3 linked regions of the Homo sapiens genome follow. The protein of the gene in region 2 purifies or fractionates together with the protein of the main gene of each other region. This does not show direct contact. Each region holds a gene or a part of one and is shown on either strand. Other genes may lie near its edges.

Region 1 (7,027 bases), on a different chromosome or scaffold from region 2:
GTGGGTAGTAGGGTGGAGAGGGTGAACATCCGTGCGGTCTTGCCACTGGGTAGCAGGTCTGTGGGGCATGAGCACGCCTGGGCCCCGCGGCGGAATTGCCACCTAGAGGTTTGTGCTCGCCTGGGCCCCCCGGCTGGTCTCAAGGGCGTGTTTATCCATTTAAGTGGGGGCAAGTGTGCCCACCAGGCACAGCGCACAGGTCGTGTGTGTCTGTCATGTCTCACGCTAGGGTTGCTGCTGCCAGTGATAAGTGTGGGCACTGGCGCGTGTGAGAGGCACGAAGACTGCAGGGGGGCCGGGACGTCGCCTTTTGGGCCATCACCCACCCTGCAGGTTTTGATGTGCTCCAGCCTCCAGACGCAGGTGGCCTTCGGGCTCCCCTCGGTCCCGGCCGACAGGGTGGGTGGCCGTGAGGCTCCTCCCAGCCTCTGAGTCAGCCCGGGGCTCACCATGCCTCCCTGCAGCTCACACTAGCGTTCTCCTGACAGTGGATCGAGCGGGTGGTCGGCTGGCTCGGCAAGGTGTTCCTGCAGGACGGCCCCGCCAGGCCCGCATCTCCCGAGGCCGGCAACACCCTGCGCCGCTGGCGCTGCCACGTGCAAAGGTTCTTCTACCGCATCTACGCCAGCCTGCGCATCGAGGAGCTCTTCAGCATCGTCCGAGGTGGTCCTGCCCCGGCCCTGGGGTCCGCTCTCCCGTCTGGGGAGTCTTCCCAGGGCCTTCCCCGTGTCTCCTCTGTGTCTGCATCTGGGCTCCCTGTGCCTTCACCGTGTCTGCTCTGTGTCTGCGTCTGGGGCTCCCAGGGCCTTTGCCGTGTCTGCTCTGTGTCTGCGTCTGGGCTCCCTGTGTCTGCGTCTTGGGCTCCCTGTGCCTTCGCCGTGTCTGCTCTGTGTCTGCGTCTGGGCTCCCTGTGTCTGCGTCTGGGCTCCCTGTGCCTTCACCGTGTCTGCTCTGTCTGCGTCTGGGGCTCCCAGGGCCTTCGCCGTGTCTGCTCTGTCTGCGTCTGGGCTCCCTGTGTCTGCGTCTGGGGCTCCCAGGGCCTTCGCTGTGTCTGCTCTGTGTCTGCATCTGGGCTCCCTGTGCCTTCGCCGTGTCTGCTCTGTGTCTGCGTCTTGGGCTCCCTGTGCCTTCACCGTGTCTGCTCTGTGTCTGCGTCTGGGCTCCCTGTGTCTGCGTCTGGGCTCCCCGTGCCTTCACCGTGTCTGCTCTTTGTCTGCATCTGGGGCTCCCAGGGCCTTCGTCGTGTCTGCTCTGTGTCTGTGTCTGGGCTCCTTGTGTCTGCGTCTGGGCTCCCTGTGCCTTCGCCGTGTCTGCTCTGTGTCTGCATCTGGGGCTCCCAGGGCCTTCGCCATGTCGGCTCTGTGTCTGCATCTGGGCTCCCTGTGTCCACGTCTGGGGCTCCCTGTGCCTTCGCTGTCGCTCTTGCAGGGGGGTGCACCGGGCAGTGCTGGGACTGTCCCCACTGCGGCGTCCCCCGTGCCTGGATCAGGGCAGGTGTGGCAGATGCTGGACAGTGCTTCTGGGTGTCCACTGCTGTGCTGCCTTGGCCTTGGCTCCTGCTGGGGACTGGCCCCTGGGTGTTGCTCTGTCCACCCTGTGGCATTGTGGTCAAATGCATCAGCACGCCAGAGTGTCGGGGGGATGTCTGGTGCCTAGCAGGTGGTCTCATCATCGTCCTGGGGCTGGCAAGCACGTGTCCTTTCCCACACCGCACACACTCTGCACCAGCCTGCACGTGCGCACGCATCCATGTCTGTCCCTGAGGGATGTTCTTCTTCTTGTAGACTTCCCAGACTCCCGGCCAGCCATCGAGGACCTCAAGTACTGCCTGGAGAGGACGGACCAGAGGCAGCAGCTGCTCGTGTCCCTCAAGGCTGCCCTGGAGACTCGGCTCCTGCATCCAGGTGCTGTGTGCTGCCCGGCCACCCAGCACTCTGGGCTTAGACACTCACCAGGGGACCCATGTCCAGGGAGCCTGGGGCCTAGTCTGCCAGCCCTGGACTTGTAGGTCTAAGGAAGAAATGGGTTGAGAAGCAATTGGTGAGGTCCTTAGGGGATCTGAGGTGCCCGTCAGCTTGCTTGTTTCTTCTTTGGAGGGAGTCAGGACTGACCGGTAGGTCTGAGGTGATGAGACTTAGTTCTCTCAGAACAGACCTCCCTGCAGGGCGGGACCTGTGAACAGGTAGAGGTGGGGATGGGGGGACAAGGGAACGAGGCTGCAGTGGGGACCTGTAGACCACCTACCGGCATGGCCAGCTGTCTACTCGGGTGTTGCCCCTGGGAGGCTGTGGTCCCGGGCACTGCATGACTGCTGGCTTCTGCCCTGGCTGTAGGCGTCAACACGTGTGACATCATCACCCTCTATATCTCTGCCATCAAGGCGCTGCGCGTGCTGGACCCTTCCATGGTCATCCTGGAGGTGGCCTGTGAGCCTATCCGCCGCTACCTGAGGTGAGGGCTGCAGCTGGCCCAGGAGCCACTGGGACCCTGGGCATCCTGCTGAGCTCCTCGTGGTCCTGGGGGGCAGCCGGAGGGTGTGTTCGGCCGTCAGGACACAAGGTCTCCCCCGGCTGGGCTGAGTGCACGGGATCAGGCCCGAGGCTCTTTCCTTTCCTCTTGCCCGTGCCGGGCACCTGTCCTTGTCACACGGTGTCACCGTGCCCTCTGTGTGCAGCTGCCAGAGGCCCACCACAGCCCTTCCTCAGCCTCCCCATCTCCAGCACAGAGAGAAGCTCTTCCACTTGGCCTCGCCTTGGTGCTGACCAGTCCCCAAGGCCGACCAGGCAAGGGGAGTGGGCTCTGCTGTCCTGGCCTTTCCCACGGCAAGGAACAGACACTCCTGGGGCTGTTCGGTGGAGAATGTGTTGGGATGAGGACCTTGACATGGCTGCCTGGGAATTCCTCAGGGGTCGCAGAGGCCCTGGCCCGGGGCTGGCAGGCACAGTGGCCCCCAGGAGCCGAGCAGCAGGAGCCGGTGGAGTCTGGCCCCTACCTGGACTCCTTTGGTGCTTTGTGGCTGTAACTGGCCTGGCTTCTGAGCCAGTTCTTTGTTTTTTCTTTTTTTTTTGAGATGGAGTCTCACTCTTTCGCCCAGGCTGGAGTGCAGTGGCACGATCTCTGCTCACTGCAAGCTCCGCCTCCCGGGTTCACGCCATTCTCCTGCCTCAGCCTCCCGAGTAACTGAGACTACAGGCCGCCACCAAGCCTGGCTAACTTTTTGTATTTTTAATAGAGATGGGGTTTCACCATGTTAGCCAGGATAGTCTTGATCTCCTGACCTCGTGATCCGCCTGCCTCGGCCTCCTGAAGTGCTGGGATTACAGGCGTGAGCCACCGTGCCCGGCCCTTTTTTCTTTTTCTTTTTCTTTTTTTTGAGGCAGGCTCTCGCTCTGTTGGAGTGCAGTGGCAGAATCCTGTCTCCCTGCAGCCTCGGACACCTGGGCTTAGGTCTTCTGGCTTAGTGTCCCTATGTGCTGGGATTGCAGGTGCGCAGGCCGGCCTTGCGCTCGCAGCTCCTGCTGCTCCCAAGTAACGTTGGGTTTATTTGTTTTTAAGGAGTCTGACGGGCCTGTGTTTAGTACATAGCCCATCACCACTGAGTGTAGAGGCAGGGTCGGTGGTGCTGGCCTAGATGGGGCCGGGACTGGAATGAGTGGTGGGAGGTGCGCGCGGGGTGTCCACACTGTGGGCCACAGCAGCACTCACATCGGCAGGACGCGGGAGGACACAGTGCGGCAGATTGTGGCTGGGCTGACGGGGGACTCGGACGGGACAGGGGACCTGGCTGTTGAGCTGTCCAAGACCGACCCGGCGAGCCTGGAGACAGGCCAGGACAGTGAGGATGACTCAGGCGAGCCAGAGGACTGGGTCCCGGACCCTGTGGATGCCGATCCAGGTTAGCTTGCCCCACATGGTCCCTTTCACCAGTGTGGGGGGCGCTTCAGCCAGGCCGTCCGCTCTGGACTCATCCCTTGTCACAGAGCTTGGCTGTGTCAGGTGTCGCTAGTGTCTCAGAGGCTTGAGGGTGTCAAAGGTCAGGGCAGTGCTCCGCCACCTGCCAGCCTGGGCAGGCCGGTGATGGGCTGTTTTCCTCTGTGGCTGGTCACTCTGGCCGTGGGGGATGCCCTGCCTCCCACCGCTTGTGAGCTGTGGGGTGTCCCTGCCCCGCCACTGCACCTGGCAGAGGAGTGAAGATGTGGGTGACCCCTGAGCTCTGTACTGATTTGGGCCTCAAAGTCCCGTTAGGGTGCCAGCTCCTGCTCAGAGCCCATCTGTGCCTGGCCCTCGTCTGCGAGGGCTCTGAGGGCTATGGGGCCCAGGCCTGGCCCCTGCCCTGGCACAGATGGTAAGTCTTCAACACATCTTTAGTCTCTCTCAGAGGAAAACCCCAGGACCTTTGGCTTGTCCCCTAAGCCTGCATGGGAGTCCCGGAAGGTCCCTGTGGGGTGAGAGGGGCTGGGGATTGAAGCTGTTGCTCCAGGACCTGACTCCAGGTCTCCCGGGAGGCTCAGGGCTGCTCCCAGCCTCGAGGGCCTTCAGGAAGAGCCATGCTGGGCTGTGCCGTCTGGCTGGGCGGGATGGGAGGAGGGCGGCCCTGTCCTTGCCCAGGTGCCTGTCAGGTGACACCCCTGCCCCCACCATGCCAGGGAAGTCGAGCTCCAAGCGGCGTTCATCGGACATCATCAGCCTGCTGGTCAGCATCTACGGCAGCAAGGACCTCTTCATCAATGAGTACCGCTCGCTGCTGGCCGACCGCCTGCTGCACCAGTTCAGCTTCAGCCCCGAGCGGTGAGGCCTGTGACGCGCTGGCCATCTCCAGGGGTGCCGGGGCCTTTGCCCAGCCTCTCTCGGGACAGGGCCCTGACGCCGTGCCTGGGGCCTGGTTGGAGCTGTGCTTCCGCCCCCACTCCTGGCTGGGGGTGTGCTAGCCATTGGGGTGCCCACACAGGCTCCCTGCTCTGCCTGGGGGGCACCCCCGTGCCCTGCCACAGGTGCTCCTTGGGGCTGGGGCTCATCACGACCCCCTGCCCAGACACTCGTCTTTCCAGGGAGATCCGCAACGTGGAGCTGCTGAAGCTGCGCTTTGGCGAGGCCCCAATGCACTTCTGTGAAGTCATGCTGAAGGTGGGTCCCAGCCCCGCCCGCTGCCCGGCCGCCCCGCAGGTCCCCCGTGACACCGGCTCCTCCTCAGGACATGGCGGACTCCCGCCGCATCAATGCCAACATCCGGGAGGAGGATGAGAAGCGGCCAGCAGAGGAGCAGCCACCGTTCGGGGTCTACGCTGTCATCCTGTCCAGTGAGTTCTGGCCGCCCTTCAAGGACGAGAAGCTGGAGGTCCCCGAGGATATCAGGGCAGCCCTGGAGGCTTACTGCAAGAAGTATGAGCAGCTCAAGGTACCTCCATGCCAGGCCACCCCATGGGCTCTTGGCACCCCTACCCTGCACTGCGGGGCTCCCAGCAGCCTGGTGCCTGTGGCTGCCCCGTTGTCACCCGAGTGTCTCTGGGTTGGTCCTGTCTCGCAGCCGCCTCTGCAGGAGAGGGAGTGGGCCTGGCCCACGCTCTCTCCGCCTTCCTCCCAGCAACCCCGTGTCCCCTGTGAGCGAGCGTCCGCGCGGCCCACAGGCGCTTGGGTGGGCTGTGCTGGGCCCAGGTCTCCTGAACTGCTTCAGGGGGACCCCTGTGGCCACAGCAGGCCCTGCCCTCTGAGCGTTTCCTCCTCTTTTGCTATCCACCCTCTGCCTCTCAGAACCGGGGCTTGGGGTGCCTTGCGTCACTGCAGGGAGGCAGCTAGGGAGCCAGGGCTGCCCTCTGCCCAGGGCAGCACTCCCAGGCGCACCTGACCCCCAGGACCCCAGCCCTGCCCCCTTCTCCAGGTCTGTTTCCTCGAGAACTGCCTTTGCAGGCTCCAGTGGTACTTGAGGACCGGGGCTATGGGTCTGTGGTGGGAGTAGGAGGGGAGCAGATGTGGGGAGTGGAGGAGTGAGCCCTGGCCTGGAGGTCACTGGCAGATGGGGACAGTGTGCCCAGAGGATGGTATTGGCCACGTTTGGCTCACTTCCCCTGGCAGCACTGCTGAGATCCCAGCAGTCCCAGTACAGGCGTCCAGAGCCTGAGGGATGGAACTAGGCTTGGCGGTTCTTTCCCTGAGCTCATAGTCAGGTGGGAGGTGTCAGCTCGGGGAGGAAGGGTTAGGATGGTCGTCACAGGTGGGAGGTGTCGGCTCGGGGAGGAAGGGGTCGGGATGGTCGTCACAGGCGGGTTCCAGGGCTTTCTGTCTGATGTGTGGGGCCTGTGAGGCCTCCAGTGTGCCCAGCGAGTGCTCAGGACTGGGGGGAGGCGGGCACCCCAGCGGGGGACATGTGAGGAGAGGGTTCTGGGGCACAGCCAGCATCCAGTCTGCAGACCCCAACCCCAGGTACCCCAGGAAGGGGATGGTCCAGCCTCGGCCCAGGCAGGAGGAGCAGCCTCAGGACAGAGCCGCCAGGAGGCCGGCGGGCGGGCGGGGCTGAGTTCAAGGGAGGGTCCACAGCTTCTCCAGGTCTGCTGTGAAGGAGGCTGGACCTAGATGTGTTTTCCTTTTTCTTTTGCAAGTAAGAGGGCCTTGCTGTGTTGACAAACCAAGGGAACTTACTCCTAGGGGAGGGCAGGGCGATGTGTCCACTTTAGAAACCAAGGGGGAAGCTTCCTTCCGGAGACAGACAAGGGGAGGGCCAGGCGGAGGCCCCCAGGGCAGGAGGCCAAGGGGCTGTGGTAGGGCCGGGCTGCTGACCATGGTGGCGAATGCCTGCTGCCTCCCTCCAGGCCTCAGCTTGGCTCTGGAAGAGTCCAGGTGTCCCTTGCAGCTTGTGGAGGGTCTGTGTGGCTTGCACCTGCTCTCGGTGGAAAGGAGCACCCTGGCCATCCCCACACCTCGAGCTCTGGCCTGTGATACAGCCTGGTGTCTCTGGAGCCTGCGGGCACCGTGCCCCGCTGTGTTCTGGTACAAATCATCCGTGTGGCCCGGCTCCGTGCTCGGTCCCTTTCCC
Region 2 (6,989 bases):
GTGAACTATAATTCCATTAGACCCAAGGAAAAAAACCCATCTTATATAAACATTTGTTGAGTGGCTACTCTGTGCTAGACACTGTGCAAGGTGCCGGGGAAATACAGATGAATCACACAGAGATCTGGCCTCAAGGGCCTAATGACTTGCGTTAGTCTGGTATCCACACCATACTGGGTAGTTGCAGAGGACTAGGACTCAAATCGAATTCCTCTGTGAGTCCCCATCGGCAAGCACATATCAGCCCATAAGGAAGATTTGTGGAACAATGCAAGATTTTGACATTCTTGAGTTGTAGCTTCAACTCAGACAAGCCGCTTTACTTTCCTGAGCCTCAGGTTCCTCATCTGCTAAATGAAGGCAGAATCCCCAGGGCTGGGCTAAGGATAAGTGGAGACTATGAGTGGGAAAACTCTCTGGAGACCAACTATCCCTCCATATGTATGAAAGGTAGTGACTGTGACTGTTACATTCTCCCCTGTCCCCTACCAGGGTCAGCCATGCTCCTCAAGGTTTATGGAAGGAATGAGTAAGCAGCTTTCACTAGCACTGAATTCACACCACTCAACTCTGGCCCTTCCTGGATCCTAGAGAATTCTCTGCATAGAATCATGGTTTCCATCTTCAGCCTCTGGGCTCTGGATTTATTGATTTCTGTTGAGAAATCTCCATCCTGACCCTGCTTTCCATTCCTAGGCCCTGGTTTGTATAAATCACAAATAAGGCAAATGTAAAAATCTAAGAATGGAAAGGATCAAGCTAGGGGAATCCCTTCCAGGGACTCACATCAGAGCTGGCGACATGGTTAGATATTATGTTAGAGAACACGGAAGCTTGTGAATGGGGAGACATCTACCTGGGGTCCCCAGCAAGTCGGCAATAAGACAAAGGTGAGACCCAAGATGCCCAGATCCCATCCCATCCACTCCATATAGGGCCACCAAAGACCTTCCCTATCTGGGTCCCCTATCATTCTTTCTCATCTTTCTCCACTCCACATATCTAGTTCTGCCCAGATTCTCAATGTTCTCCAAACATGCCCTTGAATGAAATATGCCTCTTTGTGCACCCTCTTTTCCTACTTATTTACCAGTGGGCTTAACTCCTACTCATCCCTCAAGGCCCACTCAAATGTTTCCTTTTCTGGAACAAAAGTCTAAACTTAGTTTGTTCAGAACCCATTCATCAATCCCTCCTCTGTGTTCTCATGTATTCTCTACATACATTGATTTTAACATTTATTACCCTCCTCTATAATTGTCTATAATTGTCTTAGTACTCACTATACTCTATTTTTCTCTAGGGCAGGAATTATTTCTGCTTCCCCTCTGTCCCCAGGGCCTAGAAAGGTGTCTGGCACTCAGTTGGTACTCAATAAATGTCACCAGCTAACCAGTCATCATTACTTACTGAGCCTGGCTGATGACCCTGAAAAGAAACTCTGTTACTAGGGAATTTCCAGCAGGCGGAATTATCAGGAAGGACGGGGCAAATGGTACCTGAGGTAAGAATCCTGTAAGAAAAAGATGCCGGAGGAGAAACTGATGGAGACACAGGTCACAGAAGGAAGATGAGGAATCCAGGAGAAGGTCATGCTGGGCCCTGGGGACATAGTAACCATTCAGTCCCTGCCCTCAAGGAGCTCATGGTCTGTTGGGGAAATAAACAAAAGCACAATTTTGTACAGAATGAGGCTGCAGTAAACCATTTTCTCCTACCACCCTTTCTTTACATGGCTTCCAAGATACCATCAACTCACCCAGCTTTCTACTTATCTTTTTGGCCTTCCTTCTCCATCTGGTTTGCTGCTTTTCCTAGTTTCCTCAAATTCTGAATATTGGAGGAAACTATTTTCCAACTACATTCACTCCCTTGGTGATCTCATCCAGTCTCATGACTTTAAACACCATCTACATGCCAATGACTCCCAAATGATCTATCCAGCCCAGATCTCTGCCCTGACCTGCAGACTCATATGCCTTCCTGCCGCCCCAACATCTCTACTCTAATGGGCATCTCAGACTCAACACACTCAAACCTAAGCTCCCTGTCAAAAAAAAACCAAACCCCTCATCACCTCCCCATTCCTTCCCAACTCAAAAAAGTGGCAACACCAATCTTCTAGTCGTTCAGCCCAAAAATCGTGGCTCCTTTCTTATTCTGGCATTGTCCATCTGTTAGCAAACCTTGTAGTCTCTACCATCTAAATAAATTCAGAATTCAACCACTTCTCATCCACTACCTCTAGATTATCATAATAGGCTCCCAAATGGTCTCCCTGCTTCTGCCATTGTCTCCCCTACCCCAGTCTATTTGGAGAACAGCCAGAGTAACTCAGTTAAACTGTAAATCAGATTGTGTGGACCCTGTGCTCACAACCCTCCACTGGCTCCCCAACTCCTCATCTCCTACCTATTACTCTCCCTAGAGGACACTATGCCCAAGCCATTCTAGGCCCTCTGCACTTGTATTCTCTCTCTCTGAAATGCTCTTCCACAAATATCAGAAGGCTCTCTGCTCCTTCAGACCTTTACTCAAAAGTCACCTTCCCAGTGACTTTGGCCCCCCAGTCTGAAATAAAACACCTCCCCTGCAAATATTTTATTCCCACTTCTCAGATTTATTTTTTCTCTTATTTACTGCAATCTTACAACTACATATTTTATTTATCTATCTTCTTTATTGTTTACCTCTCTCAGAATGAAGGCTGCATGAAAAGAGGGACTTTTTTGGTCTGTTTTGTTTACTATTGTATACCCACTACTAAGAATAGTGATGGACATATACTAAGGCACTCAGTAGGTATTTGTTGAATGAATGAAAAAGGTAGTCATTTCCAAGAGGCAAAGTTTACTCTTTAATGAAAAACTATAACAAACAGTGCTATTTGGCAATATAATCACATTCAATATGCACAGTACACGACCTCTTGAACAATTCTTATCCAATCTTCACATCAGCCCAGGATAGAAGGAAGGCTGGGCAGAGATTATGATGCTGGTTGACAAAGAAGCTGAGTCCAGAGAGAGGAAAAGGAATTGCCAAAACTCACACATCTGGCCAGGACAGTACTGGAAATGCGGATAACTGCTGTCCCTGAAAGAGGCTGGTAAGTGATGGAGTTTAATAGGAATTGGGTTTGAAGGACCTCTGTTGCCAGAAAGCATGAGTATCTCTAAAGGCGAAGCTGAGTCAGAGGTTACTAGAACAGAGGCATCAGCAAAGGATGGGAGAGGTGACGAGGGCGATCTCTAAGTGTACTTGGCCCAGGCCTGAGGAGGGCAGCTGATTCCCCCAGCAACAGAATGCTGTGCCTGAGGCTAACTAGTCATTCAAGTCTGTACATAATCTCCAATGTCAAAACTCAACAAGCAACCTTAAGAGAGACCACTAAGTCTACTGCATGTCTGCAGGGTTTGGCTTCCCTGGACTGTGAGGTCTTCCAGGGAAGCGACCATATTCCTAGATTTATCCCCAGTTTCTAGCAAGGCCTGGAATATAGTAATATTGTAACTCTAATATTTTTGTTCAGAGCAAAAATAAAAAAGAATGAATATGCTCAAACGGGAAACTGTAGCTGAGAGAGCACAGATAGGAGGGGCCTAACATCAACCAGCAATTCTGAAGTAGTAACAGATTAGTTTTCTGGGATGCAGCAGGACGAATGGCCCTCGCACTAAAAGGTTGCTGTCAGCTCTTCTTCAGAAGGGGTTAACAAGCAAATGGTGACTGGCAACAAAAGGGCAGGGGTTAAACGGGGCAGTGGTTAAACGAGACCGTAGTGCTGGCGCCAGGATGGAGACGCCGACTGGCTGAGACTCAAGGCGGGGCAGATAGGTAGGCGCGGCACACTTCCTTCCCTAACAATGTGACTAAGGTAGGTCAACGTCACATCCGGTTTAGTGGGCGGGAGCGGGGAAAACAAAAGGAGACGAAGGACGCATGCGTTTGGTGAGTCCCGGATTCTGGTGGGTTCTTCCGCTCAGGCTGGGTGAAGCGCTTCCGGGTCGCCGCCGGCAGCAGCCTCCCGGCGCGGTAAGTACAGACGCAAGGCTGCAACCGTCTCCTTGCCCCTTCATTCCTTTTTCCCCCAGAGAAACCCATTTCCTTTGACCCGACTCCCCAGGAGCTCCATATTGAGAGTCCTTAACCCTTAAAGAGCTCCAGCTCATTGGCCGCTTCCTCGAGACTAAGCCCCACCCCGTCACACAAGGTCCGTCATTCATTGGTGTCACTTCCTGTCACCCAGCATTTCTTTCAGTTAATTGGTCCTACCCAGGCCCCGCTTTTTTCGCGTTTAGCAACCCTATAAGGCCAAATTTCTGTCTGAGACCCGCCCTGCTTTCTTTCTGTTGGTCAACTGCATGGTCATTATCGTAATGAGCAAAGAAAGGGCGGTGGCTTTGCGACGGTGGGTTGGGCTTTCGGAGCCGAGATCGCTGGTCTGTCAGTACTTCTTGGACATGAGGGTGTTTACCGTCGTGCCTAATTACGCGGGTTGGGAATCTGAGATACAGGGAAGGGCAGCGGCTGGCCCTGGGTCGGTCAGATAAATTAAGACAAAAGCAGGACCAGGCATCGATTATTTTCTCCTGCTCATCCCTTTCACGGAGGAATTCTAAGCCCCGACACACTGTATGACCTAAAGCCAGTCTCTGCCTGTCGCTGGGCCTCAGTTCGCCTGTCCTAAGTTTAATTCAGATTATCTGGCACTCCTGGTCGGCTCCCTCAGCCGCTCAAAGCTGATTGTACCCTTATAATGTTAGTTCATCCATTCAATCTTCCATCTACTTATTTATCCACTTATTCATGCCTCCTAGAATGTCTTACTGAACCCTGCTTGCATATGCTACAATCCCTCCACCCCGACATTTGGCTGTGATTCATGAGAGGTCGTTAGTGTCCTAAATTTCTGACACTGGGTGGGTGTGGTATGGGCCATCATAAAGGGTCAAAAAGCAGGTTTTAGTGTGTGGAGGAGGTAGGGATAGTTTCAGTAGAACCCTGCTACCTCTAATTTTGTATAATTTCATAATGCCAGTCTGCATTCTGGATTCCTATCCCTACACTTGACTCCCATTCTCATCCCTCCTTGAACAGCCTGCAAACAGCTTTGTTGATCCATTATTTACTTAATTATCAGAATAACTTTGACAGTGGTATAATTGTTATTATCCCCATTTTACAGATGAAGACACTGAGGCTCAGAGAGGTTAAGTGACTCAGCCAAGGTCAAACAGCTAGTAAGTGGTGGAGCCAGGACTCAAAGCCAGGTCTGTCTGATTCCTAGGGGGAGGGGCTGCTTTCCTGCTGTCTTCCACCCTATCCCTAAATCAAATTACAACCAAATTAAAAACAAAAACAAAGCAAAACACATTCACTTGACCCTTTCCCTCAGTCTAGGAGCCATGTCCACTTTGTTCCCCTCACTCTTCCCTCGTGTGACTGAGACTCTGTGGTTTAATCTGGATCGACCCTGTGTGGAAGAGACAGAGCTGCAGCAGCAGGAACAGCAGCATCAGGCCTGGGTGAGTGAGCAGCTAGCACAGCACAGAGACCTCAGCACAGACAGAGACCTCCTTCAGTGGGCCATGACCCAGCCTTACTCCAGAAATCTACCCAGGAAGAGCTTTTTGCCCTGAGCTGGGAATAATCGGGCTGGGAGCCAGGGAGCCAAGGTTCTCATCTTGTGGTACCCTATTTTACAGGGGTACCATGTGACTTCTGGGCCAGATTAGAGCCCAGGCTGCTGACACTCAGCCCAAGCTCTTTTCCCTAAAGCACAGGAAATAATTTTGACTATTAATTGAGGATCTAGCAGATGATGCTTTCTAGGCTGATAAGTCTCTCACTTCATCCTCACCATAATTATACAAAAAAAAGAAGGCTCAGAGAGTTTAAGTATTTGGATCAAGTTCATAAATGGCAGATGACAAGAAAGGGATTGTATCTCCCTGAGAACTGGGAGGAAGCTTCTCCCCAACACGTGTGGGTTGTCTTCTGGGCAGAATGGGCCAGTCCCATGCCCCTGACCTGCCCTACTTGGGCTCTGGCCTTGTTCCTCTGTGCCTTTGCCCACAGCTCCAAAGCATCGCGGAGAAAGACAACAACCTGGTTCCTATTGGCAAGCCAGCCTCAGAGGTGAGTGGCTCTAGCAGGTGGGGCCTGTGTGGGGGCCGCAGTGGACCGAGGCTCTGCTCTAATTCTGAATGTCCTGTCTCTGACCCAGAGCAGTTGTGGTTCTCAGATCTGGGTAAAAGCCTAAAAGGGGAGATAGAAGGGGTGGGCATTGGGCCTAGCATTAAGGTCCTGCAGAACATGCACCAGCCTGCTAGACTCAAGGAGGGAGTGTCGGGGTAGGGGGTCATTCATTGGCCCTAGAGAGAGGCTCAAGTGGGTCAGTTCTTGAACTGGTCCATGCAGGCCTGTAGGGCTTACAGGCTCTGTCCTGCCCACCAGCACTATGATGACGAGGAAGAAGAGGATGATGAAGATGATGAGGATAGTGAAGAGGACTCAGAGGATGATGAGGATATGCAGGACATGGACGAGATGAATGACTACAATGAGTCACCGGATGATGGAGAGGTCAATGAGGTAGGCAAGGGGTATGGGGGAGGGCCTCTGTTCCTGGACCCTTGCTCCTGACCCAGTTGATGGCCAAGGGGTACAGAAACCCTGGATCCAGCCAGGGGCAGGATCTGGGGCTGAGGCTGGCTGAGGCCCCTCCCCACCCACACCCAGCCTCCTCTCCAGGTGGACATGGAAGGCAACGAACAGGATCAGGACCAGTGGATGATCTAGGTAGACAAGGCAGGGTGGCCTCAGGGAGATTCCAGGCCAGCCCAAACTACCCTGCATCCCAACCCCCAACCCCTGCCCACAGAACCAGCTGATGGCCCCAGTGCCTGAAAGTGCCCTTGGGCACCTCCTCAGCTGCTGCCAGGATCTGGTCTCTTTGGCCCCTCCCAGGCCATCAGTCTGCACTT
Region 3 (7,027 bases), on a different chromosome or scaffold from region 2:
ATGTTCAGGGACAGCATCTAACATGGATTCAAAGAGTAACATATTTTGGCTACTCAATGAGAAATTTAGATTTAATGTGCATTGGTAATGAATAACCATTATATGAGCAGAAGAGTTTTTGAGCAGAGGAATTATGTAATAAAAGCACCACTTTGGGAATATTTATCTGGTGCTGTTGGAAAGGGAGGAAGAGACAAGAGTTAGACATACAGACTAGTAGAATAATCCAACTGCATGATCATGTAGACCAGGGCTGCTTAATCTGAGCACTATTGACATTTGGGGCAAGCTAATACTTTGTTGGAAGCTGTGCATTGTAGAATGTTTTGTAGCATCCCTGGCTTCTAACCACTGGATGACCCCTCCATTTGTGACAACCAAAAATACCCTCTAGACATTGCTAAATGTTGGGGCATTAATTGGGAGTAAGAAGGCAAAATTGCCCAGAGTAAGAACCACTGACGTGCATCTAAACTAAATCAGTATCCTAGAAATTCAATTATAATGTATAATATGAAATTTCAACAGTGATTTTTTTCTTTGTATCTTCTTACATTGTCTGAAGCCTTTATTATCCATTTATTTTATGGTTTTTAAAAAAGGGCAGCTGACTGGGCACAGTGGCTCACGCTTGTAATCCCAGCACTTTCAGAGGCTGAGGCAGACAGATCACTTGAGCCAAGGAGTTCAAGACCAACAAATAAAATAAAATAAAGACAGCTTTTTTGACAAAAACAAGAACACAAAATGTATAAAAAATTTAACAAAAACAAGTAAACAAATTTTTTGTAATAAGCTTTCTCTAACAAAAAATTTATAATGATTACAGGCCGGGCGCGGTGCCTCACGCCTGTAATCCCAGCACTTTGGGGGGCTGAGGCAGGCGGATCACGAGGTCAGGAGATCGAGACCATCCTGGCCAACAGGGTGAAACCATTCCTTCTCTACTAAAAATACAAAAAAAATTAGCCGGGCATGGTGGCAGGCACCTGTAGTCCCAGCTACTCAGGAGGCTGAGGCAGGAGAATGGCGTGAACCCAGGAGGTGGAGCTTGCAGTGAGCCGAGATCGCGCCACTGCACTCCAGCCTGGGTGACAGAGTGAGACTCTGTCTCAAAAAAAAAGAGAAAAATTTATAGTGATTACATTTAAGTCTAAGTACAACTTATAGAGGTTTGTTTATATTTTAAATAATATTTTATATTTAAGAATAGCTAGCTGGTAAGGAATTTTGCAACTTTAAGCTGTTGGTTTATTTATCTTTTAAATTAGTGCACCTGGGGACTAACCCATTAATCAGTCAGATTTCTCTTAAACATTTTTTAGGGGAGAGGGAGAGGAGCGTTGTTCTTTTTGGCTTCATAACTTTCTTTTAGCAGCATTTCGTTCATCTGGCTTTAATTTGTAGAACTCTAGCGGTAATGCACTGGGTGTTCTTTTAAGGGAAGGCCCACACCATCAGTTGGGCAGAGGTGCTGATTTTAGCCCTGTTCATCATCAGCTACTAATCTGTAGTGCCTTAGAGAATAATCTGTTCTTCCCCCCAATCCCGGCACAAGAGACACTGTTAGTCAGGAACTTAGAATTGATTGAGCAAAGCGGGATGGAAGCAGTATGTGAGATTCTCGAGATGGCAAGTTTTTTCTGATGCTCTTAAGAACTGGTGATAAGGGAATGATGTTCTGAGCAAAGCTTGATTTTAAGTCAGAAATGGATACAACTCTTGAATATGATACCTTTTTTCCTTCTTTTTTCCCCCCGCCCTTGCCTCTTATTTCTTTAATTTTAAAAGGACAGAAAAAATTTCAAAGCTCTAGGACTTTTTGACTTTAGTATATGTGTGTGAAATTTTCCTAGTGGTCCATAGTAGTAAAATAGCTGGTAAATCATTTGAGTCTTTTGTGGCTTATATATTGCAAAATAAGCAGTTGTAGCAGGTATGCTGGGGAGATGTTATGCAACAGAAACTACATATTTATTGAATTTCTTTATATTAAGAGATTGGCAAGGAAAAGGTTTTCCAAGTGCTTAATGTATGATAGTATACTAGGAGCATTATAAATGGATCATTTCATTTAATCCACAAAACAACTCCAATAAATAAACTCCATTTATCAGATGAAGAGATTGAGGCTGAGAAAAGTTGAGTATTTCCCACAAAGTCCCACTACTGGAAGTGCTGGCACACAAATTTGAGCACGTCTCCAAACATCAAATCTTTGGTATCTTCATTCTACTCACCATTTTCTTTCACTTACAGCAAAATTAAACATGTAGGTTCTTAGGAAATCCCAGATTTCATAAAGGAGTAATTTGGTGGTAATTATTTGCATAATAAAATAATTCTTCTATTTATCACAGAGTTTCTTTCAATAGAGACTCCCAGAGATTCTTTATTATTAGATATACATCTAGGAATACAAAGAAACTTAATGCTAAGACTAACGTACAAGAGTGTCAACAGTGGAAGACTGCTAGAAATTAAAGATCATTTGCTTATTCATTCAACATATAAGCACCTGCTTTAAAAGCACATAATGGATACTGGGAGTATAATAATGAGCAAAAACAGACGTAGCCCCTACCTTGTGGAGTTTGTAATATAGTAAGGAAAACATCACTCAAATACTCTCCTAAATTAATACAGAATTATAGCAGTGGGAAGTATTACAAAGGAAAGGTACTTGGTGCAATTAGAGTGTATAATAATGGTGCCTAATCTCATCTTTTTCCTTGTATCTAGATAGGAATGGTAAAATTAGACATCTTTGAGACTTTATAAAATTTAAGCTATATAAACAAAGGTTAAACAAGAGGCTCTGGAGATCCCAAACTAAGTTCATTACTGTTCTTTCTTGAGGAAATAGAAAGGGCTAAGTCATTTACTACTTTTATTTTTAAAATTATAATTAATATACTCATTGCAGAATTATTAAACATTTACTTGTTTGTTCAACAAAATTTGTTGAGCCTTTACTGTATCTAAGGCATATTAATCACTTAATATAATTTAGATGTACTGGTACAATGTTAGCTAGTGATCAGTAACCAGATTTTACTGGTTTCCGTTGTAACCTTTTTAAATCATTCAACAAATTATAAGCTGGTGTATGTGCTAAAAATAAAAAATAACGCTTGTATCATGATCAGGTGTGAGATATCTCAAAAGTAGTTTATTACTAAAAATGATTTGACATTACCTAGTAAAGATGAACATATGCATATTCAACAACCCAGTAATTTTATTCCTAAATATATATCCTAATTTGGAGAGATTCTTTTTTGTGTTTTTTTGATGGGAGTCTTGCTCCTATTGCACTCCAGCAGCTATTCACAGGTATGATCATAGCCTTGAACTCCTGGACTCAAGCAGTCTTCCCAGCTCAGCCTTCTGAGTCGCTGGGACTAAAGGCTCACACCACCGTGATAGGCTGGAGAGATTCTTAAATATATACCCCAGGAGATGAATCTAAGACTGTTGCAGCATTGTTATAATTGGAAAAACAAAACAAAACAAAAAAACACCCTAGAAATAACCCAAATGTCCACATGCTGTAAAATAGATAAAATACATTTTGGATTTTGATATGTTTATACAATGGAAATATTATTTATTCAGCAATGAAAACAAATGAACTCTAGCTACACACATCAAGAATGAATTTTCAAAACATTGGATTTCAAAAGCAAATCGTAGCAGAATGTATACAATATGATTGTATTTATTTAAAGTTCAAAAACAGGAAAAAGTAAATGTTATACTGCTTAGAGATGATATGTACAAATGTATAAAATTGTGAAGAAAACCAAGAGAAAGGTCAAGAAAATTCAGTGTGGTGGTTTCCTCTTTGGGGCAGGGAGAGGTTTTGGTATCAACAAGGAACACACAGGGAGTTTCAGAGATATTTTATTTCTTAAGCTGGGTGGTGAGTACATGGGCCTAAATGTCTTTGGTTATTGTTACTTAAAATGTCCTTCTATCTCATATATACTTTAGGTTATATGTTTTGTAATTCTAAAAGAGAAAACATATATTCAAAAAATTAAAAGTTATTCCTATGATAACTTTACTCATTTGCATTCCAATATGCTTCCTGGAGTGGATGAGAATTGAGTGGCATTAAAGGTAATAGATAGGGAAGTTTTTGTGGGAGGATGACATACATTTTAATATCTCTGTCATGTATATCACATAAAGTGGTTGAGAACCACTGCTGCTAAAAGTCTGTAGTTTAGTAGGGTTGGCAGTCCTGTTAACAAATAACCATGTTATGAGTGCTCTACTAGAAGAGGTATCTTAAAAAAGAAATGGCTTGACATCAGCCAGGAAAGCTTTATGGGGCAGATGTTATTTAAGCTGGATCTTTAGGGACGAGCAGTTTATAAGGGGAGACTGGTGAGGGGAGCCCACATTGCCCAATGGAGGAAAAGGGTGTACAAAGGCACAGAAGCCTAAAAGTCCATAGAGAGTTGAGTGAGGAAATTCAGATATGTTAGGAGCCATACTGTGAAGAGCCTTGCCCGGCACACTCTGGAGTTTGCTCTGTGGGCATTGGGGTTTTATCACTTAAATTAGGGATATTAATTTCAGTATTTGATGTAAGGCTGTGTGCTAGTAGTTACCTTGAAAGTCTGTATGTATGTATATTTATGTTCTTTTTCCTCCATTTGCAGGCTGCTATATGGCAAGCACTAAACCACTATGCTTACCGAGATGCGGTTTTCCTCGCAGAACGCCTTTATGCAGAAGGTTTGAAATCTATTCATTGCTGTAGAATGATAAATGAATAACATATATGAAATTCCATAACTTTTTATCACTGTAACAAGATTCTAGCTATCATCATCTTGTTGTTTTTCTGATTGACACTAGTTCATAAAATCTTTACTTTTTTTCTGTGTAGTTCCCTTACATACTACTTTTAATAACTATGTAGAATTGATTCAGGTTTATATGCTATGATTTACTTAATCATTTTTCAATCTTTAGGTTTTTTTTTCCCCCAGGGTTTTTGTTGTTTTGGGTTTTTTTTTTTTTTTTTTTTTTTTTTTTTTTTGAAACAGGGTCTCACTCTGTCACCCATGTTGGAGTACAGTGGGACCATCTCAGCTCACTGCAACCTCTACCTCCCAGGCTCAAGCGATCCTCCCACATCAGCCTCCCAAGTAGCTGGGACCGCAGGCACGGACCACCACGCCTGGCTAATTTTTTTTTTTTTTTTGGTAGAGATAGGGTTTTGCTATGTTGCCCAGGCTGGTCTCAAATTCCTGAGCTTAGGTGATCCACCTGCCTTGGCCTCCCAAAGTGCTGGGATTATACTCATGGGCCACCATGCCATGTATTTTTTTTTTTTTTTTTTTTTTTTAAGAAAAGAGTCTGTATTCTATGGTGAAGAACATGGATTTAGACTCTATAGCCTTGGAACAAATCCTAACCTGTCACTTAAATGTACAGTTTTATAACCTTGGACGAGTTACTTTAATATCTGAAAATTCAGATATTTCATCTATAAAATAATCATTGCCCCTTAGAATTAAAAATTCAATGAGATGGTTTATTTAAAGCCCTTAGCACAGCCATCTGGCTTGGTAATCAATGCTTAATAAACACCACTGATAATGTATGTTTTGTTTCTGTCATTATTATAATTCCCTTTCTAAGATGCTGATATAGATCATTGTGTACAGCTTTTTTTTTTTTTTGAGTCATTTCCTTGGGTTATGTACTTTTAAATGGAATTTACAAGTCAAACAGTATGGGTTTAGTAGCTGAGAGTTGTGAGAACAAGGCCTAAACCTCAGGGGCAGGAAATTTCACAAAAGGACAAAGAGCAATGCTTGGAAGTAGTTTTGAGAAGTTAAGTGGAAACCAGCCTTACCTTGACTCTGAGATAGTGGGATGTAAGGTGATTACTGTCCATGTGAGAGAGCTGTCTCCTCGGTGGAGAATGGGAATTCAGTGAGAAAAGTGAGGAAGATCTGGGCAGCAGGAGTTTAAGGTCCCAATGAAAAGATTAGAAAGGTGAGAAGGAATGGAAGGCTTAGAAAGAAGATTATACAATAGATTAATCTACTCCATTCACTTATGCAAAAGTGATGTTTATTGTGAATAATCTATTTAAAAATATTTTCATTGATACCTAGGCAGGCCCCATATTTTGCTGTATTTTTAAAAATTTTTGTTGAGTCAGAATCTCACTCTGTCGCCCAGGCTAGAGTACAGTGGCACAATCATAGCTCACTGCAGCCTTGAACTCCTGGACTGAAGTGATCCTCCTGCCTCAGCCTCCCAAAGAGCTGGAGTTACAGATGTGAGCCACTGTACTCGGCCACTGTCTTCTATTTCTAGTATTTCCTTTTTGTTTTTGTTTATTATTAAAGAATAGGCAGTTTCTAGTTTATTATAGTTAGGCTCTTAAAAATTGTAAATTCATGGTTTAGAATTCAATTAGATTTTCCCATAGAATTGGTGGCAAGATTCCCAGATTAGTCCACATAAAGCTGTTTAATCCACGTTATTTATGTACCTGATACAATGCTTGGCACTTGGAAAGTTGCTCAGTAAATGTTAGTTTCTTTCAATATAGAACCTCACCATTCGGTTTAACCATATTTATATGAGGAAAGATTTTAGAATTAAGTGTAGTAAGAGCAGATACTATCCTGGCTCAGTAATAATAACAATAATTCTATCACTTATTGATTTCTTACTGTATACTAGGTACTCTAAGTATTTAATATTAGTTACTAATTTAATCTTCAATAATCCTATCAAATAGACATTGCTATTGCCATTTTCTGGATGAAGAACTGAGACTAATGTCCACAGGCGGTAACTAGTAATCTGTCTGATTCCGCTTTCCCAAGAGTAGCAATTACCACTTCTCTGATTTGCAACCATAGTAGGCATCACTAATCCATTACAGTACTCATTCCCACTGAACCAACCTCAGAATTCTTGGCAACAGTTTTCTTGGTGGACAATATCAGTTGATATGCTAGATGTAACCTGTTTGCTCAGGGGCCTC

What was found. The genes of interacting proteins can lie anywhere in the genome.
Region 1: the proteins of ANAPC15 (region 2) and ANAPC2 purify together in Homo sapiens (affinity purification with mass spectrometry; 4 studies listed by BioGRID and IntAct, with this or other methods). This does not show direct contact.
Region 3: the proteins of ANAPC15 (region 2) and CDC27 purify together in Homo sapiens (affinity purification with mass spectrometry; 3 studies listed by BioGRID and IntAct, with this or other methods). This does not show direct contact.

What each region holds. Positions count from the first base shown.
Region 1 is NC_000009.12:137,178,549-137,185,575, reverse strand, and holds part of ANAPC2 (anaphase-promoting complex subunit 2), read left to right. Parts: intron 1-488; coding exon 489-663; intron 664-1,784; coding exon 1,785-1,904; intron 1,905-2,333; coding exon 2,334-2,451; intron 2,452-3,713; coding exon 3,714-3,895; intron 3,896-4,646; coding exon 4,647-4,788; intron 4,789-5,048; coding exon 5,049-5,124; intron 5,125-5,191; coding exon 5,192-5,395; intron 5,396-7,027. UniProt on the Homo sapiens protein: Together with the RING-H2 protein ANAPC11, constitutes the catalytic component of the anaphase promoting complex/cyclosome (APC/C), a cell cycle-regulated E3 ubiquitin ligase that controls progression through mitosis and the G1 phase of the cell cycle.
Region 2 is NC_000011.10:72,109,696-72,116,684, reverse strand, and holds the start of ANAPC15 (anaphase-promoting complex subunit 15), read left to right. Parts: upstream 1-3,989; 5' UTR 3,990-4,035; intron 4,036-4,386; exon of another isoform or gene 4,387-4,446; intron 4,447-4,449; exon of another isoform or gene 4,450-4,761; intron 4,762-5,188; 5' UTR 5,189-5,273; intron 5,274-5,398; 5' UTR 5,399-5,408; coding exon 5,409-5,528; intron 5,529-5,902; exon of another isoform or gene 5,903-6,081; coding exon 6,082-6,141; exon of another isoform or gene 6,142-6,423; coding exon of another isoform or gene 6,424-6,459; coding exon 6,460-6,597; exon of another isoform or gene 6,598-6,744; coding exon of another isoform or gene 6,745-6,756; coding exon 6,757-6,804; 3' UTR 6,805-6,989. UniProt on the Homo sapiens protein: Component of the anaphase promoting complex/cyclosome (APC/C), a cell cycle-regulated E3 ubiquitin ligase that controls progression through mitosis and the G1 phase of the cell cycle.
Region 3 is NC_000017.11:47,179,284-47,186,310, reverse strand, and holds part of CDC27 (cell division cycle protein 27 homolog), read left to right. Parts: intron 1-4,673; coding exon 4,674-4,749; intron 4,750-7,027. UniProt on the Homo sapiens protein: Component of the anaphase promoting complex/cyclosome (APC/C), a cell cycle-regulated E3 ubiquitin ligase that controls progression through mitosis and the G1 phase of the cell cycle.